Homo sapiens: one gene and its partners. The protein of the gene in region 2 interacts with the protein of the main gene of each other region in a pairwise test. Each region holds a gene or a part of one and is shown on either strand. Other genes may lie near its edges.

Region 1 (5,844 bases), on a different chromosome or scaffold from region 2:
CTGAGCCTGGGGCACTTACCCATGTCAGGCAGCGGGCGGCGAAGCCCAGGAGTCCCCAGATGCTACAGATGCGAGCGGGGTGGGAGGGGGCAGCATAAGGGCCACTCTGCCCAGGGACGGGCAGCAGGAGTGCGTAGGGGCCGCGTGTGTCCATGGGGGTGTCTGGCCTCCCCCTACCCCATGCATCCCCAGCCCTGGCAGCCCCAGCCCGACCTGGCCTACACTCCGGGCACTCCCAGCCCTGCTCCCCAGGAAGACGCTCCGTTCTGTGCACATCGCCGGGCAGAGGGCAGCCCCAGACTTGTTGACTTGGCAGAGGTGCCAGTAAGGCCGCCCATGCCGGAGGCCAGCATCCCTCTGCCAGGAGCACGGGGAGGGAGGGAGTGGAGGGGGACGTGGCAGGGGAGGGAAGGTCTGAGGGGCATGGGAGCCAGAGAGGGTACCCACTCCCCTGCAGGACCTGTGACAGTCGGTCCACAGATCCTCCCCCACTGCTCTGAGTCAGATTCCACACACACAGCCTTTATTGAGCAGCTACTGGGCAGTGACGCTGCCGAGGCGGGAATCCCACCACAGTCCTGACCGCAGCTGGGACCCCTTTGCCTCCTCTGACACCCCCACCTCAATTTGATACCCACTTCCTGAGCAAATGTGACCCCTAGGGCCTGGGATTCCCAAGACCACCCCGAAATGCAGCGGCCCCACCGTCTCCTGAGGCCGGTGAGGCCAGGGGCAGCAGTGCGGCTCAGCAGGTGCGAGGCAGGCTTAGGATTTCGGAATCACCACCTGGAACTTACCTGGAAGAGAAGGCCTGGCTTAGGCTTGAGGATGGGATGGGGGAGGCAGAGGGCACCTGGACGGCTCTTAGGCGCTCACCCCCGTCCTGCACTGACACCCCAGTGGCTAGGTTGGGCTGTTTCCTCCCGCCCACGGGGCCGCATCCCTGAGCTGTGTGAGTAACCAGGAGCATGAGGGCCACGGATGTGGCCCCAGGGAAGCGCCCGGCACGGGCTTCTGTGGTATGCATTGCTCGGTCCTACCCCACGGGGGCCCCGGGGGCCCCCATGAGTGGGCCTGGGGAACCGGCAGAGGCAAAATAACTGAAGGTGGGGGAGGTGGTGGGGCAGGCTGTCCCCAGGCAGGAATGGGGCTCCAGCTTGTCTGACAGAGGACACCCAGTCAGGCAGGCTGCAAGTTCCCTGGAGCCTGCCGTCGCCCCCATCGAAGGATCAGTGAGGATAACTTCTATTGCGTCCACCTCGGCTCCCATGCTGGGAAACGATGTTCAAAACCGCCAGACAGTTCTCTCTGCAGGGCTGGCGACGTCACGGAGCCAGGGGCACAGATGGGCCTGCACCAGCCGTGTGGCTGAGCAGGTGACTTAAAACTGGGCCTGCCTCCCAGGCACACACACAGGAGTGGGGCTGGAACTCTGAAGCCCCCAGCAACTCAAGGGATGAGAAGAATCCCCCCACCCCCCATGACTCACAGACGGGCAGGGCTGCCACGGAGGCGGTGACCACGCTCTCAATGCCCAGGGTATAGAGGGCGCCGCGCAGGAGGCCGCAGGTGAAGGCCAGGAACTGAGGAGGGAACACAGACCAGCATGGGAAGAGAGGGGAGGCCAGCACCCGAGGTCTGGGGCACCCCTTAGGCCTGGGGAAAGGCCTGATGTGGGATGGGGCTGGGTAAACAGGAGGAAGGGAGGTGTGGACAAGGCCCCAGCTCCCCCCATACCTTGGGTGCTTCCTCCAGATACTGCAGGCCAGAGGCCATCGGGAGGAGGAGGGGGAAGCTGTTGTCTTGCAGGACGTAGGTCCCCTGGGGGAGAGGAGAGGCTGGTGGGTGGGGTCGGGGCCTGTACATTTGAAGCGCAGGGAGGGTAAGCAGGAACCCAGGTCTTAGATTGGGCTGAGGTTGGGAAGGCCCCCTTCCTGAGAACCACTGGAGTCACAGCCTTGGCCTCCAGTGCTCTGGTAGGGCCCAGGGCTTCCAAACTTGGAGTGGGTGCCTGTGCCCTGGGGAGTGTGGGTCCTGCCCTCGCCTCCCAGGGTTGTGCAGAAAAGCTGGGGACCCGGCCCAGGAAGATGCAGAAGGGCAGGTACAGCCTGGGTGTCACTGGGGGACTAGACCAGCTTGGGACAAGCAGCATCACACTGGGGGTAGGGCAGGCAGCCACCAGGGGCTTTCTGCCCATGCATGGCTCACTCCTGGTAGGCTGGAGAAGTTCCGGAAACACCCCCTATGCCCCAGCGCAGCCTCCTGGCTTCCCTTAGAGGATCAGACAGAGCAAGAGCTGCGGCCGCCTGTGGGAAAGCTCTGGGCGGGTCCCGGCAGCCGCTGCTCTGGCGCCGGGGGATTCCCCTCCCACTCTCTTGGTCTTGCCCTCAGGAGGAAGCTGGACGGGCAGGCCGGGGTGCTCCCACCTGGTGATTGGTGCGCAGGCTGTCCATCTGCTTCTGGAACACCGCCACCCACAGGTCTTTGCACAAGAACTTGAGGACATCCAGCTCCTCCCTGAAGGCCAGCGTCTCCCGGGGCAGCCTGGTGGGGCAGTACCAAGCTGAGGCCGTGGGGCCAGGCCAGGAAGAGGGAGGAAGACAGGCCCGACTCCTGCATGGAGCAATGCAACCCTCCCCGCCCGGGGCCTGCCCAGCCCTGCCAGCCAGGCTGGGGGAGAGCAGGAGGGGCCGCGCTCACCTCTCGCCTAGAGCCTGGCCCACACGGAACCCCATACCCTCCAGGACCGACAGGCTCATCTTCTGTCCCTAGAAGGCCAGGGGAGAGATGCTCAGGGGCCCTTAGCCACCACGAACCCGGGGCCACCCAGGGGGGGACCTGCCAGGGGACCCAAAGACCAACTTGCTGGTGCTCGTCAGTTCAGGGGTGAGCAGGGAGGGGCTCTGGCACAGCCCGGCCAGGGCAGGGGCAGGCCTCTAGGGTGCTGGGGCTCCCTCACCCACCTCTGCAGACCTTGCAGGCTCTCTGGATCCCCAGATCATCAGCCCCCAAGAACCAGCTCCCCCTTCCCTCAGGAACAATGGGGGTCTTCCCCAGGCTCCCTTCCTCCTCCATGACTTTTCCTGATAACCCCCATGACAGGCTGCACGTGCTTTCAGCGCGAACCCTCACAATGCCCTGGGAAGTGGGCGCTGCGACTCCACCAAGATGCTCCAGGTGACCTGCCCAAGGGCTGGAGGCTGGGCCACAGGAAAGGGGGCTGTGGAAGTCAACCATGATCATCATGCCTTATAATATTGGCCAAGATCCCTGGGGAACACGTGGAAGCTCGGGACAGGCAGATCTTCGTTTGGGTGCTCGAAAAGGACAGTGGCTGCCATGTAGTGTCTGGAGGGTAGGCCAGGGTCCATACAGGAGGGGACTGTGCTGGCAGAGGCAGGCCCCAGGTAGGAGGGCTGCACTCGGTGTCTGTCCACGTGCCTGTGTGTGTGGAGGGCATGGCTGGAGGAGAGGAGATGCTCATGGATTTTTTTTTTTTTAAGAGATGGAGTCTAGCTTCATTGCCCAGGCTGGAATGCAGTGGCCCAATCTCTGACTCACTGCAACCTCCGCCTCCCGGGTTCTAGCAATTCTCCTGCCTCAGCCTCCAGAGTAGCTGGGACTACAGGGATACGCCACCACACCCTACTAATTTTTTGTATTTCATTAGAGACAGGGTTTCACTGTGTTGCCCAGGCTGGTCTCGAACTCCTCAGCTCAGGCAATCTGCCCGCCTCGGCCTTCCAAAGTGCTGGGATTACAGGCGTGAGCCACCGCGCCTGGCGAGTTTTCTTTTTTGGAGACAGAGTCTCACTCTGTTGCCTAGGTAGAGTGCAGTGGTGCAATGCTGGCTCACTGCAACCTCCGCCTCCCGGGTTCAAACAATTCTCCTGCCTCAGCCTCCCGAGTAGCTGGGATTACAGGCCTGTGTGCCACCACACCCGGCTAATTTTTGTATTTTTGGTAGAGATGGGGTTTCACCATGTTGGCCAGGCTGGTCTCAAACTCCTAGCCTCAAGTGATCCGCCCGCCTTGGCCTCCCAAAGTGCTGGGATTACAGGCAAAAGCCACTGCACCTGGCCATGGATCTTTTTTTTTTTTTTTTTCATTCGGGTGTTTTGCTGCAAGCAGAGGAAGGGAGGAGGCCCAGACTGGGGGGCACCAGAAATCCCAGGACGGCTGGGGCGTGAGGCGCCAGGTTTTTCAGAGAAAGCCTGGCAGAGCAGAAGTGGGGGAACAGAGGCGGCAGGTGTGCAGCCCTGAGCTGAAGGAAGCTCACCCTCCCGCTGGCTGCTCTCAGGAGCCTGCAGTCACCAGGCCTGAGCCCTGCAGCCCTCCCTCTCCTGCCCTTGACCCCCACCTTCCCTTGGGAATGGCAGCTACCGCCTCCTCCCTCCAGGGCTGCACCATCAGCGCAGCCATCCGAATGGGGATGCGAATTCTCTGCTTGGCTCCAGCCCTGGAGCGGGTCTCCCAGCCTGGAGAGCGTGTCCGAGGAAGGCTTCTTGCAGCCTGCGGGCCCAGCTGCCTCCATCCCTCCCTCACCCTCTCCTCTGCCCCCTGAGGACATTCGCTCAGACTTCTGAGCCTTTGTACCGACTTCCTTCCCTTCCTCCCTCCCAGCTTGCGTCCCCAGCCCTGCCCACTGCACACTGTCCCTGGATGAGGACACAGCTCTGTGAAGGTGGGGACCCAGGCTGACCAATTCACATCCGGCCTTCAGCAGCCAACACAGAGCTTGGCATGTGGGTGGTGCTTAACAGACTGGCTGATGAGACAACGTGCATCAACAAAGGACACCGTAAGTCCTTACCTAATGCTGTCAACAGGCTCTTGGAAACTATGGCTTTAAGCAAAATGACATATGATGAAACCAATTTCACGCAGGTTAATTAACATAAACAAGAGTGAAGTTCCAATGCCATATTTCTGGTACAAACACATCACCAAACTTCTAAATAAGGATGAAAACACTTGAAATATTAAACACTGAAATAAATGTGAGCTATACATACGTTTAAGAAAGATTAGGCCGGGCGCAGTGGCTCACTCCTGTAATTCCAGCACTTTGGGAGGTCGGAGTTTCGCTCTTGTTGCCCAGGCTGGAGTGCAACGGCGCGATCTCAGCTCACCACAACCTCTGCCTCCCGGGTTCAAGTGAATCTCCTGCCTCAGCCTCCCCAGTAGCTGGGATTACAGGCATGAGCCACCACGCCCGGTTAATTTTGTATTTTTAGTAGAGACAGGGTTTCTTCTCTTTTGGCCAGGCGGGTCTCGAACTCCCAACCTCAGGTGATCTGCCCACCTCGGCCTCCCAAAGTGCTGGGATTACAGGCGTGGGCCATCGCGCCCAGCTGAGTCCAGGAGTTCGAGTCCAGCCTGGTCGACATGGCGAAACCCCTTCTCTACAAAAAATACAAAAGTTAGCCAGGTGTGGTGGCATGCACCCGTGTCCCAGCTACTTGGGAAGCTGAGGCAGGAGGATCATCTGAGCCCAGGAGGTCGCTACTGCAGTGAGCCATGATCATGCCACTGTACTGCAGCCCAGGCAACAGCAAGACCCTGTCTTTTTTTTTTTTTTTTTTTTTTTTTTTGAGACAGAGTCTCGCCCTGTCGCCCAGGCTGGAGTGCAGTGGCGCAATCTCGGCTCACTGCAAGCTCCGCCTCCCGGGTTCACGCCATTCTCCTGCCTCAGCCTCCTGAGTAGCTGGCACTATAGGCACCCGCCACCACGCCCAGCTAATTTTTTTGTATTTTTAGCAGGGACGGGGTTTCACCATGTTAGCCAGGATGGTCTTGATCTCCTGACCTCGTGATTCACCCACCTCGGCCTCCCAAAGTGCT
Region 2 (5,734 bases):
ACCAGCCTACCTCATGACACCCTCACTAGTCACGTGTTCTACCATAGCTTTTGACTGCCAATCAAGATTATGTTCAGTTGATGACAAGCAAAAGACAGGTATACCTGTTCATACTCTCCCTTAAGGCCTAGAACCCTGCTCTCAGTTCTTGGCTTTGCTTCAGATTGTAAAAGTCCACTGAGATTTGGAAAAGAAATTACCCTGCCCTGGTATCCAGTGGACAGGGCTCTGTGGGACACTGCCCTATCCCTAAGTCTCTTAAGGAGCTATAAGAAAAGCCAGGTTAACTTTGATCAACATGGCCTGGGCCCTGTAAGGAGGTTTAGCTGTCCTTACAGCCATTGTGATTTGGGCCAAGAGGGTCCAGTAAAAAGGAAAACCATTTCAAGCCTTTATAGCCTGTGTCAGAAGACTATGACCATGTGGGATCTCCTTTAGCCCTGTGAAGTCCAGGGCTTCTGCCCTGAGCTGCCCTTCAGTCACACCACACAGAGACCATGCATGCTCTCAGAACTTTATTAGGTGGGGATTGGGCAAGAGAAAACCCCTGAAACAGTTGCCCACGTGGTTCAAGACAACTAGAATGGAGATGTGTTGCTTGGAGATACCTTAGATTTTTAAAGGGGAGCTGACTGGCTGAATAACTCAGATTATTTTTTTTTTTTTCATGGTCAGCCAGTCTCTAGTAAGTCTCTAGGGACATGACCAGACCAGAAGCCCCTGTTCTATATGAAGACAAACAGGTGGCCATACTTGGGTGGAGGGATACCGCTGCTATTCCCAGATGAAGATTTGGTGGAAGGAGACCATGACAGATGACAAACGGAACAGTTTCTCAAAAACAGAGGTATGAAGTAATTACACAGGAAAGAAAACAATTTCCAAAGGAGTGAGACAAGTCGTGATTCTTCATTGGTACCTGACCCCTATACCCAAACAGCCTTGAACCAGCCCTTCCAGAGACTGCCCCTAGTGGCCCACTGGGCAGTGCAGGCTGTGAAGAAGACCTGAAGGCAGATGGGGTGGGGGTGCTTATTTTGCTACAGTGGAGAAGGGGCTTGAATGGGGAGGGCAGACCTGGCTAACATCTGCCGCCATCCCCCAACTCCCCCCCAGACTTCTATCACATTTACAAATACATACATAAATACATTACATACAGTAGCCAGTCTGGGAGGCAGACTCCCCACAGAGGCATGGCTGACACATGTCGGGAATTCTAGGAAAGGGCACTGGGCTCCCAAATACGTGCTCGTGTGTTCTCTCCTGCCCAGGATAAGCCTTGCCCCAGCCCACCCCTCTCTTCTGGGTTTAGTTTGTCCAGTATGGAGAGTTGCCGTAGGCAGGTTTGGAGGCTTGAGACTTGGGCTGCAGGGAGCTGGGCTGGCTGCGCTGACCCGAGCCACTCTGAGGAAGAGGAGAAGGGAAGGCTGTCAAGGCTGGAGCAGAACCCCTGGCCCAGAGTAGGGTGGCTGCCTCCATCACTGTACTCACCTGTGCATCCTGCGGAAGGTGGTGGTGCAGCAGCTGTGAGTGGGGCTGCTGGTGGGCTGGCAAGATGTGTAGGAATGGTGGGGGTGCATAGCCAGGGGCCGCTCCCGAGGCCAGGGGCCCAGTGGAGCCCAAGACCGAGGGCAGGCTGAAAGGTGGAGGCGTCCCTGCATGAAATCCCTGCTTGTCAAAAGTCTACAGGGCAAAGAAGACAATGGTGAAGGTCAGGTTGGGCTGTAACCTCTCAAAAACCTATACACCCAACCCACCTTTGTCCCTCACCTGTGTCTTATTGTAGACAGAACCAGTCATATCAGGTAGACCAGTGGTGCTTGAAGACACTGATACTCCTAGGAGGAAAAGCAGTTGTTCCCCACAGCAGTTGTTCCCAGCTCCAGGCTCCCCACCTCCAGGATCACTCAGGGGTTGCCCTGCCTGAGAGGGGATCAGGCAGGAGCCCACCACTCCAGGCCTTATCCTGGAAAGGAGAGGTAAACACTACCTTTGCCAGGCCCAGAACCTGCAGACTTGTTTGGTGCCTGCGATGATCCAGCATAGCCACCTTTGGAGTAGTCTCCTGCTGCTGTCCCCTGGGTCAGGTCGTCATAACCTAGCGTGGCAGGGTACAAGAGGCAAGTGTGAGCCAGGCAAGCCTGTCTAACCCCATGTGTCTCTGTCTGGGAAGTACCCCTCACCTGTACTGTAGCCGTGCTGGCCATAACCACTGGCCTGCTGGAAGGGAGGTGTGGGAGTGCTGAGGTTCACCCCATGTTGCTTGGCTGAGGCTGGAGGGACCTGGGGGGGCAAGCAGATGAGGTATTAGTGTAGGAAGAGGCAAGCTGAGGCTGGTCAGGTACCCCTGCCAGAGCCTAAGGCAGCAGGTGACATACCCACAACCACAGGGGACCTGTGTTTTCATTAGTGCAACACATGCTGGATCTAAACACAGCAGGGGAAAAGTGACCTTGTCCCCAGCCTGAACAGTTTCTGAAGACCAGGTAAGACGGAGTGGAATCACAACCCTCCCTCCCTGCTGGAAGATAGGTCCCAGGTTTCCACCTGCCAGCAACCCAAGGCCAGGAGACACAGTCACACCCTCTGAAATACTCACAAACATGGTGGGGCCATACTGGAAGGCACTGGGCATGCCTGTGTAGTAGGGAAGACCAGTGTAGCTATAGCCAGGTGGCAGTGCAGGATTCACGAAGGGCTGCTGGGCTGTGTGGTGGGTCTGTGATTGGCTCTGCTGTGGCTGAGCTGGTGTGGTAGCGGGTGCAGGGGATGCAGAGTCCCCACGGCCAAACTTTGTGACATCACCTAGGAAAGAGCACTGACTCCAGCCACTGCCCTTCCTCCAACCAGAGAAAGGCCACACTGGCTTCTGCAAACAGGAACAGGTCTGGCTGCCAGCTCAGCACAGGCTACTAAGAGGCCTCTCTCAGCTTGCTGTTGCTGCTTCCCAGCTCCTGGAGTTCGCGCTAGGCCGGCCCCGGGCTACTCCTCATCCATTGAGCAAACTCACCTGGATATGGATTATTAGCTAGGCTCCCATCTCGGCTGGCAAGCGCTGTGGGTGCAGCAAAGGGAATTCCATAGTAGTCCTAGGAGAGACCAGGGAGGCTTGATCAGCGACTGGCCCTGCTTGACTCCCAGGAGAGCAGAACCAGCACATGGAAGTGGTGACGCCACACTCCTGAAACAGACTCCATGCCTGAGAGCCAGCAGTCCCAGGGAACGCCAAGTAAATGGTGCCCCTCGGAAGAGTGTGCAACTAGGCGGCCTGCCTAACACATAAGCACACAGACCGGCCAACCCTGCAGCTTCACCAGGCAGAGCTGCTGGAGACCAAGCCTCACACATCCATTTGACACCACAGGCAGGTGCTTGTGTGAATGCCTCGGGCTGAACCAACTTCGCTGGCTTTTCTGTGTGAGAGACTAGAGCAGCTAGGAAAGCTGACTAAACAGAGCAGACCTGAAAAAGGAGGCAACAGAAGTGCAGGGGCCTGAAAGGTTTAAGGGGGGACAGGGGGCAGTGCCAGGTAGGCACGGGAATAAGCAGGACCCCAGGTGAAGCCCAGAACTGGCCTGTCACCACCTACACTGCTCTCAAAACACTGACATGGCCTAGGACAAGCTTGTCCAACCCACGGCCCATGACAGCTTTGAATGTGGCCCAACACAAATTCGTCTTTCTTAAAACATGAAATTTGTTTGCAATTTTTTTAAGCTCATCAGCTATCTTTAATGTTAGTGTATTTTATGTGTGGCCCAAGACAATTATTCTTTCAATGTGGCCCAAGGAAGCCAAAACATTGGACACCCCTGGCCCAGGACTTGGGGGAAGTATGGCAGATACAACAAAGTGTGGAGACAGAGACGGCAAAGCACAGTGGAGCTTCGTGGAGGAGGGGAGGTCTGACCTGACCCTCACTCACCATCCAGGGCCTCGCACTCCTGGACACACCTGGCCCCTGAGGAAAGGCAAAGCCCTTGGGCTGTGCCCGATCCCAGAAAGGAGCCATCCTGGCTGGGAATGGCACTCACACCCTCCAGGAAACCTCCCGGAAACCCATAGCAGCCTAGAACCCCCGGAAGAGGCAGAGCTGGGAACACACAGAGCTGCACAACTGAGGACGGGAGCAGAGAAAGCCCAGAAGGGGGAGCACTTTCACAGAACACGAGAATTCTCCAGGCAGGAACTAGGCTCACAAGCAGCAGAGGTGAACAAACAACCCGAGGGATAGAAAGAGCAACATATCTCAAAAGGTGGGCTCCAGAGGGTGTTTTCTCTAAGGCACAAAGTGATAAAAGCCAAAAGAGTGCTGTGAATAAGTGTGGAGACCACGGAGAGCCCCTGAAGCAGAATGAATCCCGGGGCTCAGCACCACCTCCTGCAGTTTGGGCCTTTGGCCGGCAGATTAAAGGGCTGCTGGTTTGCACAGTGGGGAGAAGCCGCTCCGCTCCCAGGCTAGGCCTCTGCTTCTGGAAATACGGCCAGCCAGTGGAAAGGGCTACTCTTCTGAAACAAGAGCAGCTCCGTCAGCTCTTTGTGGTGCAGCAGAGAAGGGAGCAACACCCACGGGGAAGAAGGCATCACTGCACAAGGGAGAAAGCCTCTTCCTCCAGCAACAGGAAAGACTGTATCCAGCAGAGGTGGTGTCCAAACTGCCTGCAACTCTCTGACAAGTGCCCTGGGAAATGGCAGAGCAAGAAGACAGTGGCTCCCAGGAGGAAGTCCTGCCCATGGGCAGGGCAAGGAGCGGGCCTATTCCCCTCTGTCCCCACAGTTCTGTTCATGTGGCTATCCCAGGAAAGGCCCACACTGCATTCTGGCACCAACGGTCAGAAGAAAGAGGCAACCCTGGTCTCAGAGTAAGGCTGCAACCACCAGGGACGTCCCAGGGCAGGCATTCTCACAAATCTAGATGGGAGGCCAGACCCAGAAGAGACCTTAAAGACCATCAGCTCAAGCCACTCACTCAGCTGATTGCAGAAGAGCAGTCACTGGCCATCTCAGACCAAAGACACTATATGGTACTCTGAGGAAGAGGAAGACAGTATAAAACTCCAGGGCCACGTAAGCAACCTCCATGTCTTGTGTCATATGGTTTTTCTTTTTAAAAAAGAGAGAGAAAACAAGATGGAGGAGGGAAGATAAGGACCAACATTTAACAGGGGACATGGCCTACCAGGGCCCCAGGTCCCAAAGGCCTTCATGTTTCCCAGGGATGAGCACTGGATACTCTGTGCTAAAGCTATGGTCACGCCTGGCACAACCGCCAGATGAAAACAGCTTTCTCAGTAGTGGTGCTGAGAGGTTCCTCAGGCAGAGGATCCTAAGGGCCAGAGAGTGTGGCAGCCAAGACCATAAGAGGGGGGACATGTAAAAGATTCTGAACCCTCTGCTCCGACCAGTCCATACCCCACTCACCACTGGCAGCCGTGACTGCAGCATCTGGAGCTCGTCATAGCCATAGATCTGTGTGAGAACCAGAAAGTGTATTTTAGGAACCACATACCACACCCTGGGAAGCCCAGGTCCATCTAGGAGTCAAAACAAGGTTGGGGGGCTCTAACACACCCGGGAATGGGATCTGGATTAGCTGTTACGGGAACAGATCCTGCCTTCACGGAGTCTAGATGGAAGAAGACCACCAGGGCTCAGTGGGGCAGAGACGGGGGTGCTCAGGGATGGAAGGGCAGCTCAAGGTGGGCAACCTGGGCCCAACGCCAGGTTCCTG
Region 3 (7,649 bases), on a different chromosome or scaffold from region 2:
TATATCATGATCATACACAGATAACAGTGTCTTTCATCATAAATACAAGGTTAGTATAAAAGTAATTACAGGACTATTGAGCTAGATCATCTTTATCTACATACCCACCAAGGTCATCTTGAGAGCCGCCAGTGGGACCCTCTCCAAGCTTTCAGAAATGCCGAATTCCAGCATAGTGGGAGACGGATGGATTTAAACTAAGTTCAGGAATAATCTAGAGTAGATGGTCTAAGGCCACCAGGGTTCAATTCTAGTGCTCATTACTCACATAGTTTTTGTGGGGGATTTATCTTCTCTTCTTGGTTTCATCATCTGTAAGTTGGGCTCCCAAGTGTGACAGTGAGATGGGAAAATGGCCACAAAAGTGCTGTGGAAGGAATATACCACCATCCGATGTCACCACCGCTAGTCTGGTCAGCACTTACTGGGGTCTGTTCTGGGACCAGATGGATAGCTGACACGGAACATGCCAGAATCTTCCGTGGAGGCCTAGAAAGAGTGGTTTCCTTTCTGAAGCCTGCCGTCATCGGGCTAGGGGAAGGGAAGCTTCTCTGGTAGGAAAAGCGAGACCTCTCTCTCATGACACAGGGTGATCATAGATTTGTACAACTGCAGGAGGAGAGACTCAGGACCCCAATGGAAATGTTCCTATGAATCTTTAATGGACTGGAAGATATTAATGAACTTCCAAAAATTAAGCTAGAGACCCTTTCCCTTTGGAAAACTCAGCTATAGGGAAACACACCAGGCTCCTTCCTGCCTGCAGACACACAGCCCTCCTGGTCTTCCTCATGCCTGCAGCTGAGTGCGACCCCTCATCAGCTCCCTCCATGGGAGACTTGCCTCGTTGGTGGGGATGTGGAGCTCTATTTATGGCAGGTAATGACATTAAGGGCTCCCTGAGCTTCCTTTCCAGCATTTTCTGGGATTAAAAGGGGTGAAAAGGGGAGAGAACTGAGAACCTCATGTGAGATATTCCAGGCTCAGTGACAGTCAGACTGACAAGGCCCTTGAGACATCGCCAGCTTCACCATTTCTTATTCCTTCACCCAGGTGTTTTGCTGAGAATAAACCTGAGGCTGCAGTGGACAGGGACTTTTCTGAGGTCACATAGCAGGCCAAGGTAGAGCTAAGACTCACATCCTGGGTTCCTGACTGTTAGCAGGTGTGTGCGTCCACACCAATGCCCCAGTGCGGCTTTCCTCCCTTCCTCAAGCCAGCTCTCGATCTACCTGGTCACTGTTATCTGGGGACATGCCTTGGGGTGGCCACTGGCTTGGGGAAGGTGATCAGGGTGGACAGACTTTTCCCAAGCCAAAGCTTCGGCCCCTGGGCAAAGCTTCAGCCCCTGGAAGTTGTGCAGACTGAACTTGGCTTATGAGGAGGAGACTGTGCTGGGCCCAGCAGGGATTTGGGGGAGTCAGAGCCAGGTCCTGATAGCGGGGCTTCTGTTTACCAGCTGTGTAACTTGGGGACATTATCCTCCTCTTCTCTTTCACAGATGAGTTTTCTTATCTGTCCAGTTATGATAATCATGCTTTTCTACTGAAATTAAAAGAGAATGCCTATGACATTGTCAATGCTGAATAAATGGTAACTAGCATTCTTAGCCGGGGCCTGGTTACAATAACAAGCCCCAGGTCCCTGCATTCTGCAACTAACTGAGCCTTGGTGTCTGAAGCTGAAAAGCACAGTTTTGGGTTAGATTGAAAGGTATATCAGGAAACCAGCCCAGAGCCAGGTCTTGCTCTGAATTTTAGAGTCCTCTATCCAGTTAATATGGACGGAGAAGCTTTTTCTCTGCCTGAGCCCAGCTGGGTCTTGGAGACCAGGAAACAGAAAGAAATGATCAGAAGACACTTACCCTGGGGCTGGTCCTTTGGAGGCTTTTCTAGCCCAGAGCCTGAGGCCGCAGCTTCTCCGGGGCCCTCTTCACCTGGCCCTTCTGGTCTGTCCATATCACTCCTCCTGGCAGGCCTCTTTAGGATCGCCTCAATGGAGAAGGACAGGCTCAGCTTCTTCGGGGCCTCACAGCACCCCAAGCTATTTCTCTCCATACCCCTGCAGAGAGCAGGGCCCACCTCAGCACACATTGAGGGGCTCAGGGGTGACTCTGTGTAGGCCAAGGAGGGTGCCAGTGGAGAGTGGCGTACTTCCTCCCCTGAACCTCCTGGGGTCAAGAGGGCGCGTGGAGGTGAAGAACAGAGAGCCTCCAGTTAGATGATCCAAACAGGATTTCGTGTCCACAGGGACTTCCATGGGCAGGTCACAGCAGAAGAGCTGGAAGGAGTGGTATCCTGTGCCCACGGCTCAGCCCTTACCAGTTTGACATCAAAGGAGTCACCATGGCTGAATTGGGGTTCAATCTTCCAGAGAAGGGTCTTCTCGGACACAGTTGCCTGCACAATCACCAGGTTAGGCCAGGATCCCTGAGGTCACCGCCCAGTGGCGAACAAAGAGAAGAGGGAGAAACAATAAGGCACAGGAAAGAGGAGGTCAGTCTCCAGAGGAGGTTTGGAGGCAGGGGTCCACCTTTGCCCTTTCTCTGGCTTCTGGCCCTTTCCTGTGGCTCTAGCCAGCCTTTAGGAGGAGGTTGGAGTGCCACCCTTGGCCTCAGGTGGCCAATTCAGTCCTGGGCTTTACTGCAGCTTGAGGGGTCTTCCCAGACACCCGTGTTTACTTCCTTCAGTTCTGCTGCTTCCAGACTCCAGAACGTACCTTCAGCGCATCAGTGCTCCTGCTGTCCTGCAGGTGGAGGCTGAGGAAAGGGGGTCCCTGGGTGCTGCCAGGCCTGTCTCTTCTCTGTGCCAGGGCTGGGCTGAGCTGTGGGTCTGATTCTTCTCAGGTGCCTCTGGGCTGGCCCTGGCTTTTTTTCTGTTCTATTTTCCCTGACGTCACTTTACATGCGAAGCCCTCTCTCCACAAGCGCCTGACCCAGGGTACCTCTCCCTTCCTTGTGGGGTCCTTTATGCTGTTTCTCCCAGTCTCCTGAGACAGACTGAAGAGGCCCTTTCTCTCTGACTGGGAGCTGACAGTTGTTGATCTGTCCTTGCCTGGAATTTTGCTCCAAATTACTGTGTAACCAAGGAGGAGGGGGCAGTAAAACAGGCTGATAAGAGAAAAACTCTCCACGCCCCTTAAGGCTGGGGATGCAGGTGTCAGGGTAGAAAAGTGGCAGGAGGCAGTGGGGATCTGAAGGACAGGTATTGGAGGCCCCAGGGAGGGGCTGTGCTGGGGAACTGGCCAGAGCAGGGGAAGGGAAGGTGGGAGCAGAATGGCCAGGAAGTGTACCCAGGCCCAATAAAACATGTTTACTCAGCCAGGAGAGCCTGTGGTCATGTGTGGGGGAGGCTGGGCTGAGGTGCAGTCTGCTGGCTGTCAGCCTTAGGCATTCATTTGCTCTCAGATGTGCTTTCCATGGCTTGCAAATATCAGATCAGGAAAAGCATTCCAGGGCTTTCTGATATGGGGAAACTGAGGTCCAGACCAAGGAGGTACAGAAAATGTGATGGCAGGGCCTGATCACAGTACTCCCCTGGGGATGTCCATGATGCCATGCTGGCCACAAGGAGCCAATTTGCACAGGAGGGATGGATACCCTGGCAGAGACTGTGAATGTAAATTTGGATGTTAGAATCTAGATCTTCTCATAGAGGGCAGGGGTGGGAGGTGAAGGATAGGGAACGTTGGTCTCCACTCCCTGAGAAGAGTGAGTCAGGAGAGAGAGGGACTCACCCTGAGAGAGGGAACAGGTAAAGATGCCCCATTTTAGGAGCTGTGCCCCTTGGAAGTGTCAGGCTGTCTGATTTAGTTAGGGGGGGAATAGGCTCTGCTGTAGTAGCAAGTAAACCCTATAGTCTTGGGAGCATAATAGCTCACCCACATCACATTCTAATGTAGTCATTTAGGGACCCAGATTCCTTTCAAACAGTGATGCCACCATTCTCCAATCATAGGCTCCAAGTTTTCTGGGGAAAGGGAGACAGCAAAGGAGAATTTTTTTTTTTTAATTTTAAGTTCTGGGATACATGTGCAGAATGTGCAGGTTTGTTACATAGGTATACATGTGCCTTGGTGCTTTGCTGTACCTATCACCCCATCATCTAGGTTTAAGTCCTGCGTGCATTAGGTATTTGTCCTAATGCTCTCCCTCCCCTTGCCCCCAACCCCTTGACTGGCCCCAGTGTGTATTTTCCCCCTCCCTGTGTCCATGTGTTCTCATTGTTCAACTCCCACCTATGAGTGAGAACATTCAGTATTTGGTTTTCTGTTGAAAGGAGAAATTTTGATGAGTCAGAAGTGGAAGTGGTTGATAGACCTTCTGCTCACATTCTGTGGCCAGAGGGAGTCACATGACCCTGCTTAGACCTATCCCTTTCCTAGGGCTGGACAGGGGAGTTTTCCTGCCAGGAGACAAATGAACCAGTTTGTTGACTTTTGCAGTGAAGAGGCCAGAGTCCCCTAGAAGTCAGGCCCACCATTGGTCCATGGAAGGGGTTGTTGGATGAGAGGACAAGGTTCCTTACACTCAGGGCAGAGGAAGCTCTGATGGGTACTTGAGATGCTTGGTCAAGAGCAAGGACAGGATCTTTGGGGGTGGAAGTGGCAGAGGCAAAAAGAGAGAGGCGATGGAGCCCTTTCTCTCTGCTGGACCTCGTGCCTGCAGCTGTGTGCTCACCGTTTCACTTAATCCATTCAACAGCCTGATCAATTAGGTGTCATTAATGCCATTTAACAGCTGAGGAGACATGCCCAGAGAAGTGGAGTGATAGGACAGCTAGCCACTAGAAGCAGCAAGATTCAAACTCAGGTGAGTCTGGCTCTGCACCTCACATCCCTCCCACTTTGCTGTAATACCCAGAGACCATCTGGCTCAGCCCTCTCATTTCACAGGTGAAGAACTGAGCAGCAGCGAGAGAAATTGCCAGAGTTACACCTGTTGTTTTCAGCACCTTGTTTGATTTCCTTTCATTTTGCCTCTTTCCAAGGTGTGACTGGCCCCTGGACAGGTTAACAGAACACCCTTCTGTGGTGTGGACCCGGACGCTTACTCCCCTCTCTCCCATGATTAGCCATAATCCTGACGTTACTGACTTCAATTCTTTTATCACTCACATGTATGCTCATTCCATGAATATTTCTTGAGCATCTACTATGTGCCAAACACTCTGGAGATGTAGATGAAAGAGATATGGCCCCTGCCCTGAGGGACTTACATTCTGGGGTGGGGGTGGGGTGGGGTGGGAGGAAGGGGGACATGGCTGCAGACGTACAGTGACACAAGGCAGGAAGTATCAATGGTCCGTGATGGAATCTTGTGGGTGGTCAGAGAAGTCAGAGATTGAGTGGCTGTTGGATTAATGAAAGTTTTGAAGAGGAGGAACAACAAAGGAAGGAGAGGGGCCATCATATATAAGTCCCTTTTCTGAATTGTCTTATTGAATCTACTGTAAAACTCACAAGCAAATAAACTCTGCTAAGGTAGATATCTTAGCCCTGTTTTACAGTGAAGCAACTAAGCTTCAGAGGCTTTAAGTAATGTGCCCAGGGTCCCACAGCTATGTAGTGGCACAGCTAGTGTTCCATGCTGAGTCAATTACCTTGATCTTTCTAGTGTCCCCTACTGACTCTCAGAAGCAGAATTTGAACTGGGCACCAAAGAATGAGTAGGTCATGTGGTGATAACTGTAGGAACAAAGACTTGGAGCAGGGACACATTGAGGCATGCATGGTTGATATGGTTTGGATCTGTTAACCTGTCCAGGGGCCAGTCACACCTTGGAAAGAGGCAAAATGAAAGGAAATCAAACAAGGTGCTGAAAACAACAGGTGTAACTCTGGCAATTTCTCTCGCTGCTGCTCAGTTCTTCACCTGTGAAATGAGAGGGCTGAGCCAGATGGTCTCTGGGTATTACAGCAAAGTGGGAGGGATGTGAGGTGCAGAGCCAGACTCACCTGGGTTTGAATCTTGCTGCTTCTAGTGGCTAGCTGTCCTATCACTCCACTTCTCTGGGCATGTCTCCTCAGCTGTTAAATGGCATTAATGACACCTAATTGATCAGGCTGTTGAATGGATTAAGTGAAACGGTGAGCACACAGCTGCAGGCACGAGGCCCAGCAGAGAGAAAGGGCTCCATCGCCTCTCTCTTTTTGCCTCTGCCACTTCCACCCCCAAATCTCATATTGAACTGTAATTCCCAATGTTGGAGGATTGGAGGTGGGGCCTGGTGGGAGGTGATTAGATCATGGGGGTATTTTCTAATGGTTTAACACCGTCCCCCTAGTGCTGTATTGTGAGAGAGTTCTATGAGATCTGTCTGTGTGTAGCACCTCCCCCTTCTCTCTCTCTCTCCTGCTCTGCAATGTGAAGATGTGCCTGCTTCCACTTTGCCTTCTGCCATGATTGTAAGTTTCCTGAGGCCTCCCCAACCATGCTTCCTGTACAGTATGTGGAACTGTGAGTCAATTAAACTTCTTTTCTTCACAAATTACCCAGTCTCAGGTAGTTCCTTATAGCAATGTGAGAACCGACTAATACAATGATGCACTGTTACCGGTTTCATGGATGAGAGAGGGGTTTCATTTTATGAAGAAGTATTTAGGAAGAGCATGTGGGAAAGGTGGATTGCGGCCTCCAATCATTTATGCATCCATAACATAATTTTGAAGCATCCACTGTGATGTGCTAGACCATGATCTTTATGCTAAGGAGACAGTTGTGGTTAAAAGAGGCAAGGTCTATATTCTCATGGAACTTACATTGAAAATAGATAATAAACAGATAATAAATTGATAGCACATAAATGCCCAATGTAATTTCCATTTGTGATGTTGAAAAATAAACTGCGGCGCAATACAATTTTAAAGTGTTTATTTGAACAAATAGCAATTCATGAATCAGGCAGCTCCAAAGCGGAAGTGGTTCAGGAGGTCTGTTGAAGACACAGGCTTTTATAGAGAGATGAAGAAGTGATACAAGGAAAATATTTGATTGGTTACAGTTATAAAGTTGCCTTATTTCATCTATTCCATTGAAAAGTCCCTAGTTATGTAAGTTTGTTGGTGGCTTCTTTTTGGTTGGACTTCGGTTCTGTTTTTCATTAATATAGGCATTCACAAGAAATAGCTTAAGTTTAGTTTTGCTTGTGTTTGTAAATCAAGCAATGATAAGGTCACTTATGAGGCCTAACTGGCTTTGTCTGCTCAGGTATTCTCCACTTTAATTTACTTTTGTAGTGACAATGTTATAAGTAAAACAAAATAATAAGCTAGAGAGAGGCCAGGTGAGAGAACACACTTGGATTTTTCCAGATATGAATTTTATCCCACAGGCAGTAAAAGAGCCATGGGCATTTTTGTGAGTGATGGCTCTACCATCAACCAAACTACAAGTTAAGGAGTCATTGGGAACCCAAGTAAAGTGGAGGCAAGTTATAGGCTGTGTGTGTTTGAGTATGGGAGGGAGTGTGGATCAGAATGATCTTGGCTGCAAGTGATCAAATACCCAACTTGAAGAGGCTTAAACAATGGGGGTTTGTTAATTCACATAATCACGTGTGTAGGTAGGAGGATGCAGAGTGGCTTAGTTCAGGCATGAAAACAATGTGAAGAACTAAGCACTTCCATCTTTCTTCTCTGTCATCCCCAGT
Region 4 (7,030 bases), on a different chromosome or scaffold from region 2:
GTTTGCCAACCACATGATCTAATAGGCACAAAAACCAAGTTAAGTCTTAACCCTACCAGGCAGGCTGTACAAGGCCTTGATTGTCTCCTGGTAGCATCCTCTGGCCCAGGCGGGAGGGCGAGAGCCTGCTGCCTCCTGCGCTCTTCTATTCTATGAAGCTTATGCAGAAACAGCACATCAAGGTGCTAACCTTGATATTGTTTCTTTTTTTAATTAATTAATTAATTTTTTTTTTTTTTTGAGAGACGGAGTTTCACCATGTTGCCCAGGCTGGTCTCGAACTTCTGAGCTCAAGCAATTTGCCCACCTCAGCCTCCCAAAGTGCTGGGGATTAGACATGAGCCACTGTCACGGCCTAATCTTGATATTTGAAACACATGATAGGCGTTCCTCAGTCTTGCTTTCAAAGGTACTCTTCATAAGCCCTGGCCTCTGAGTCAGTCTCCAATTATTGGGTTCTAAAGCCTCTTCTTCACGTTTATACTGACCCAACTTCCCTTTGCCTTGGTTGCTACAATTTTCTTCTCTAGCATAATGTTATTCTATCCAATGATGCGTGGTATTGTGTTTTTTCTTTTGAGTTTTGAAGTGAAAACTGATAATCAGAGGTAAGAATCCACAAATGGGCTTCTGGACATTCACATGAAGAAAGAGGGCCTTCCCACCTTGTGATTAACTAGAAAAACTGTGCTAACATCTGGCATGGAACCCTGTTCTTATTGTCTGTTCCAAAGCTTATGCTGAAGTCATTGAATGTATACATCCAACAAGAGTCCCAAGCCCTGGGCTAGTGCTGTAATTCGTATAGCAGCCCACACATTCTTGCCCTTGTGTAATACCACGAATGAACACCCATAGTCACCCAATACATATTTTGAAAATTTAATGTGTGCATATTTAAAATGAGGATATGCCACAGATTCAACTTCTATGATGGAAAAGAATATCCAATTTGACTGTGAGAACTTTGAATTATTTCACCGATACCTCTAAAGACTGATAAAATTGACTGCAAAAATTTTTTTATCCTCCCTTCCATACATTTGGATTCTTTGAAAAATATCTGGAGTTCCTGAATACATCAAGGCAACATTCAATCAGTAAAGCCATGTTCTTTTAAAGGCCCAATGACTGGAACTCAGTGAGAATGTCCCAAAACTGGCAATGCAGTTTTGAAATGGCTCTTTTGCTCCATGCTGCACATTTTGAACAATGCATAGATGATCTATTGTAGCTTGGCTTTGTTATTTGGTTAACGAAAAATCCAAGCACCAATGTCACCTCTTCCAAGAAGCTCATCCTGAGTCCTTCCTCGGCACCCATGGGACATCTGCTTTTGGCTTGGAGGGCTTTTCTGACCCTAGCCCTATTTGGCTGGTGTTTATGCCTGCCTCAACATAGTAAACCCTTTGTGTATAGAAACTGCCTTAATGTTCCCTTGATCCCTCACAGGCCAAGCCCAGCCTGACTCATGGCAAGCCTTCAACAGATGTCAGTAAAAGGAACTCAACCGTCAAATGCATAGAATGAACATGGGGTCAACTCTCCTCCGTAGCTCTCTTCCGCATGTGGGGGAAAGGGCCTAGTCTAACTGGCTTCTGTGATGCAGAATCCACTCTGCCTTATGGTCAGATAGGATATGTGGCCTATCTTAGAGGTATCCTTCCCATCTGGGTGAGATTAACATTAGGACACGGGATGGAGTTTGGAATAAATACGACAACCACATACACGTCATCTCCAGGACTAAAAAGGCAGAAACCACATTTAGTAGGGGCATCTACTGGACAACAGAGAAAAAGAGACCACAGCAAAAACACTTTTTGTACTGCAGAATTATTTGATGAGTTACTACTACAGGACATTCCAGGTTTCCTAAAAGAAAATTTAATGATTGTTCAACAAGTTCCCAAAAGGGAGTAGGAAAAGGGAGTTGGAATCTCTTCCAAAGCAAAAAAGGAAGGGAGGTGACTTTAAATAATGCTTTAAAACCGGTTAGAAGTACACAATTTCATCCTTTAGTAATATTAGTCATGGCCACGCTCTAAAGGCGGGGTGAAACCTACTTGCCTGGAGGAAAAGGACGGGGTAGAAAAACAAAGCAAAATAAAATCCATCAAACAAAAGTTTCTTCTTTTGGAAAGGGAGGGACTTCAAAATCATGACAGGCCAAATGCCTCCTCCTCTTTCTTGAAAAGCCCTCCAAGTCAGAAGCAAGCCTGAGAATAACAGCTGCTCTTAGGATGCTCAAAGCTCCTTGCAGCTGATTATTTTTCAGGAGGAGAATTAGACACAAATAATACAAGTGGGAAATAAAGAGAATGACCTACTTTACAGGGGGGGTAAAAAGGAGCTCTGTGTGAGCGTTTTGATCTAATTGACGGTGTGGGGTTGCATGCCCAAATAAGGCGCTGCTGGTCGGATCTGCGAGGGAGAGGGCACGTCTCAAACTCGAGGGAGAGGACGAGACAGCGAGAGGAACAGCGTCCGGGGCGACCCCCAGTCCACCGCGGGGGCCTGGCGCGCTTGGGGCAAAGGCCCTAGGAGACCCCTTCTGGCCACAAAATCGAGTATGACAGAAAAGGGCCAGCGGGGGCGCTTTCCTTCCAGGGCCACTTGCCGGAATGTAAGAGGGACGGAGAGACGTCCGGAAAAGGCTGCCACGCTCGGAGCGCTGCGCCAGGCCAGGCACCTAGGCCAGGGGAGCGGAGACCTCGTGGGAGCGGGCAGGGGGACCTTTCCCCTCTCCCGGGCTTCCACCCAGGCGCCTCCCCGCTGTGAACGCCGCCGCCCAGGTGAAGGGGAAACCGGCCACGTTTCCGGACCTCGGCGGGGCACACGGTCTCCGGTTTTCACCGGCTCTGTCTTGGAGCCCCGAAGGGCATCAGACAGCAGCCCCGGCACCCGGGGATTATTCCTGTACCTCTGCCTCCCTCCGCTTGGCGTTTGCGGGAACCTTGGTAAAATCCTCCCTGTTTCTCGCGCGCGCCTCTCTCTCCAGCTTCTTTTTCTTGGATTCTCGCCTGTCTCCTCCCACAGAGGAAAAAAAAAAAAAGGTCACGTATGTTTGGAAAAATATGTAGGTCAGTGGAACATTTCCTGCACTGGTGCAAAAGGAGAGGAGGGCAGCGGAGGAGGGGAGGGAGAGGCAGAGTGGAGCTCCAAGTGCCCGCTCCTGGCCGCAGCCCCACACCCCACGTGCCCCTGCCGGGGAGGGGGGCAATTAGCCGGTTCCTTTCCATCCTTGACCCATTTTCCGGACCAGCTACGTTCGCCTTAGGACAGGCACTGGTTATTCCTCCCCAGCAGTCGCTGCTGTCCTCCGCCGACCACCGCTCGCCCGCATCTTCCCCGACCCCCGCCTCCCACCTGCCCCCGGGCCGCACCCCCGCCGCTCATTGAGAAATCGCAGTGGTCCCCGCAGAGACGCGCTTTGTGCCCTGGGTCGAGACCTGCGCGCAACCCTGCCCCTGGAGGACAGTGTGGAGGGGGTGACAGTCGCGTGCTCGTCCCCCTTCATCCCCTGCGCGGGACAGCAGGGTGGCGGCCCGCACTGCGAGGGTCTACACTAGGCGGGGGCGGCAGATTCCTTGTTCCCCCCGAGTGACAACTTTAATGGGACCTCGGCTGGCAGCCTCTAGTCCACTTGCCTCTCCTCTGGGCCGGCTCACCTGGAAGCACAACCCCCCCCTCCCCCAGCCCCGGCGCCCAACCCCGACCCTGCGCCCCAGGCCCGACCCCGCCGCGCGTCCCTGGCAGCCCAGCAGAGGCTGCGGCGGCCTGGGGACTCGCGGGTGTCTGCGCCGCCCAGGGAAGCCGGGGGTCTAGGGGGCCGGGGGTCCGTCTGCCTGCGGCGCGCGCGGGGTGCTTGTCCCAGGCTGGGTCGGGGCCAGGAGAGACCCCGCAGGCGGAGGCAGGCGAGGGGAGGAGGAGGAGGGTGGGGGTAGGAGGGGGAGGTGGAGAGGGAGGAGGGTGGAGGGAGGAGGCAGGGGAGGAGGCAGAGGCGGAGGCGGCTCTCCCCGCCGGCTCTGCGTGCGGAAGAGTTTGCCGCGCGAGCAGCCGGCCTCTCGCAGGAGCCGAGGGACCCGCGCGGCTGCGGCCCAGGAGCGGCGGCCGCGGAGCCCGGAGACCCGCAGCCGCGGCGGCGGCGGCGGCGGCGGCAGCAGCTAGAGCAGCGCCTCCCGCCGCCGCCCGGGAGGAGCTCGCCGCGCCCGCTCGCCGCCTCGTCTCCCAGCGGCGGCGGGAGGCGCGTCTCCCCGGCCCAGTCCGCGCCCGGCCCCGCGGGGCCGCTCCGGCCCGCTCCGAGGTAAGGGGCCGCGCCTAGGGGCGCGGGGGACCCAGGGTGGGTAGTACGTGCGCGCGGGGTCGCAGGACTCGGTCACCTGCTCGCCAGCGTGGAGGACGCGCGGGGGCGGAGGGGCGCTCAGGCGCGAGGCTGCGCGGCACCGGGGACCCCGGACGCGGGGGCGCGGAGAGGTGGGTTCCCCTCCACAGTCAGGCCGCTGGGGGCTTCGCGTCCTGCAGGAGGTAGCAATCGCTGGGCCGGTGGGCTCCGGGCGCGTCTCGACGCAGAAGACAGAGGACTGGGCATCCGAGCCTCGGAATTTGGGGGTCCTCGGGGTGTCCGACAGGGTGGAGAAGGATCGTGCCCCAGGGCAACAGCTTTGGGGATTGCCCGTGGTTGTCTTCGAGACCCATCGCGCTACCCTCCGAAACGTCGGGCGTCCTGGACCCCCGGAGAGTGCGGCGTGCGCGCCCTGGGCCCGCGGTCTCTCGGAGTCCCTGGGTCGGAATTGGTTCCGGGCCGGATTGGGTGCGGAATCGGTGCCCCCAACCCCCGTGTGCGCAGACAGCGTGCAGCCTGGCTCCTCACGTCGCTGCCGCCCCCCCACCCCAACTCCGGAGCTCCCCAGGTTGGATGTATGCGTATGGTTTTGTTGGGAGATGTGCCCCTTTCCCAGCCGAGGAGGGACGCACCTTTGACCTTTCTGAAGAGCTGGGCAGGTCGGTAACCAGGGAAGGGACAGGCACCACCCGGCTAAATTCAGAACCAGTCCCGCTCCTCTGCTTGCCACTCCTTAATTGCTCAAGGTAAGAAAGTTTGTTTCAGCCCTGTGATTCATAAATAATTAGTAACTAGTTTTGTTGATTAAGCAAGATGGAAACCTTGAATATACGCACGCACTTCCACAAAGTCTAAACACTCCCGAGCTTGTGTCCGGGAGGCTTTAGTACGGAAAGTTAGAAGCCCTGGAGTTCAACAGGTGTTCAGGAGGGTCCCGGAGAGGAGTTTCGTCTTTACGCGTTGCTTTGGCATCCACCCCAACTTCATTAAAGTGGTTAGCCTGTTTTCCTACAGGTAAAACATTGATCACTTATTAAATTAACTTAATCAGCAGAGACGAGCTAAACCGTCTTGATCATTTAGAACCCAAACCTTATTTTCCTTAATAGAAAGGTTTTTCCTGTTTGAACTTCCCAGGTAATTAGTTCTAAAGTAGTTCCCAGCAAGACATCTCTGCCAGCATCTCTCTCTCACTGTAGCTTGGTCCCCATCAGTGAATTGACCAACTAATTATGGCTTGCATTAAACACAGAGCTGCCCTCCTTGGGAGGCACTGTTCACATTCAAGCGCACACACTAGCTCCATCTTCCTGCCACTAAGATGTCCTTAAAGGAAAAAGTTAGCCAAAAATAACCCCCAAATAAATAGTGTAATGTTTAAAAGAGTTATCCTGACCTGCGCCACTATTTTATAAAAGCAAAAATTCAGTGTTTCATTACAGCGCTAAACCAGGACCAGTAGAAGTATTGGTATCTCTCAGCAGTCTACTTAAATATTTAGTTAAAAATAAAGTGTGCAAAGTAAAGACGTTCAGTAATTATCTTCCATCTCACAGAGAGATGTGGAGTATGGCTTAGAAGAATTGTAAATGCGCTGCTTTTAGCCGTTTTCTTCTTGGAAATCGATGCCTCTATTTATTTGCTGATCTGTCCCACTGTGCGTAAATGTAGAATCGGTTTTATTCTCACTGCTTCCCAGAGGGGCTCCTGTGGAGGTGAAAGAAGGAAATACGTTCTAGAGGAAATATGTTATTAATAAAACGTTACCCCCAAAGAGTTAACCACGCCAAAAATAACCAAGTGAGGCTTTACTAATTAGTGGTCTGATGAGAGAGTGTTCAGATGATGACTAAAGAATTGATCTTTATGTAGAAAACAACAATTGTTTTTAAGCTCATTTGGTTCTCTTAAAACAGTTTGGGCCCTTTAAAAAAATTTCTGGCTGTTTAATAATGCAAATGATGAAAATCGTTAAAGATAACACATATAACCTGATGTGTGCCATGTTTAAGTTGAATTCACCCTATTTTTTTGAACAATCTTTCTTAACTCTTGGTAATCTTTATAGCTCACTCAACACTGCAACTTATTAGATTAAAAACTGAAAGTTAATTTTTTCAGAATAAAATAATAAGGCATGCGTATACTTTTTAATTTAACCATCTTTATATGTTCATTTTTTCAGAGTCTTGCTTTTGAATCTTAAGAACCCAAAGGGCTAAGTCTTCTTTCTTAATTTTTAAAACAAGCATGTGTTTTGTTCTTTACATGAATCGTCGGTTCTCCCAGTGTGATCACGACACTGTCCCATGCTGATTCCATGCACGGTGCAACTCTTTCCCAAGAGAGGTCAGATTTCGAGGTGTTGAAAATAGCCCAGTGACTCAGTATTCTTGGCTGCTTTATGCCAACGGTTTAATTGGCTGCATCATAGCAAGCATCTAATTGAGTTTCACATTTAAATAGTGGATAGGGTACTTGGTGCATTATTTGCTTACAGAAGTGTCTGATTAGCATGTTCCTGATCCTCGTTCTATTTGTAGCAAAGATGGGAGGTCAGGGACTGTCACATTTCATATTCCCCACAGCATCTCATCTCGATGGGGCCTTGTTCAGAATAGATGCTCAGTAAATAGGTGTGGGAAATGAGCTGAATTGTTGGTGGTCACTATCCAAAGGTGAGAA

Evidence for each region.
Region 1: the proteins of UBAP2 (region 2) and TRAPPC6A interact in binary tests that used the Homo sapiens proteins (3 or more experiments, as listed by UniProt).
Region 3: the proteins of UBAP2 (region 2) and ISX interact in binary tests that used the Homo sapiens proteins (3 or more experiments, as listed by UniProt).
Region 4: the proteins of UBAP2 (region 2) and NPAS2 interact in binary tests that used the Homo sapiens proteins (3 or more experiments, as listed by UniProt).

Annotation. Positions count from the first base shown.
Region 1 is NC_000019.10:45,162,427-45,168,270, forward strand, and holds the end of TRAPPC6A (trafficking protein particle complex subunit 6A), read right to left. Parts: intron 2,769-5,844; coding exon 2,701-2,768; intron 2,545-2,700; coding exon 2,427-2,544; intron 1,822-2,426; coding exon 1,738-1,821; intron 1,584-1,737; coding exon 1,490-1,583; exon of another isoform or gene 1,484-1,489; intron 798-1,483; coding exon 766-797; 3' UTR 507-765; downstream 1-506. UniProt on the Homo sapiens protein: May play a role in vesicular transport during the biogenesis of melanosomes.
Region 2 is NC_000009.12:33,921,193-33,926,926, forward strand, and holds the end of UBAP2 (ubiquitin-associated protein 2), read right to left. Parts: intron 5,473-5,734; coding exon 5,425-5,472; intron 3,093-5,424; coding exon 3,014-3,092; intron 2,809-3,013; coding exon 2,603-2,808; intron 2,287-2,602; coding exon 2,187-2,286; intron 2,102-2,186; coding exon 1,994-2,101; intron 1,842-1,993; coding exon 1,774-1,841; intron 1,687-1,773; coding exon 1,495-1,686; intron 1,408-1,494; coding exon 1,312-1,407; 3' UTR 501-1,311; downstream 1-500. UniProt on the Homo sapiens protein: Recruits the ubiquitination machinery to RNA polymerase II for polyubiquitination, removal and degradation, when the transcription-coupled nucleotide excision repair (TC-NER) machinery fails to resolve DNA damage. May promote the degradation of ANXA2.
Region 3 is NC_000022.11:35,061,532-35,069,180, reverse strand, and holds the start of ISX (intestine-specific homeobox), read right to left. Parts: upstream 3,024-7,649; 5' UTR 2,719-3,023; exon of another isoform or gene 2,430-2,718; 5' UTR 2,094-2,429; coding exon 1,865-2,093; intron 1-1,864. UniProt on the Homo sapiens protein: Transcription factor that regulates gene expression in intestine. May participate in vitamin A metabolism most likely by regulating BCO1 expression in the intestine.
Region 4 is NC_000002.12:100,816,109-100,823,138, forward strand, and holds the start of NPAS2 (neuronal PAS domain-containing protein 2), read left to right. Parts: upstream 1-4,030; 5' UTR 4,031-4,306; intron 4,307-5,046; exon of another isoform or gene 5,047-5,091; intron 5,092-7,030. UniProt on the Homo sapiens protein: Transcriptional activator which forms a core component of the circadian clock.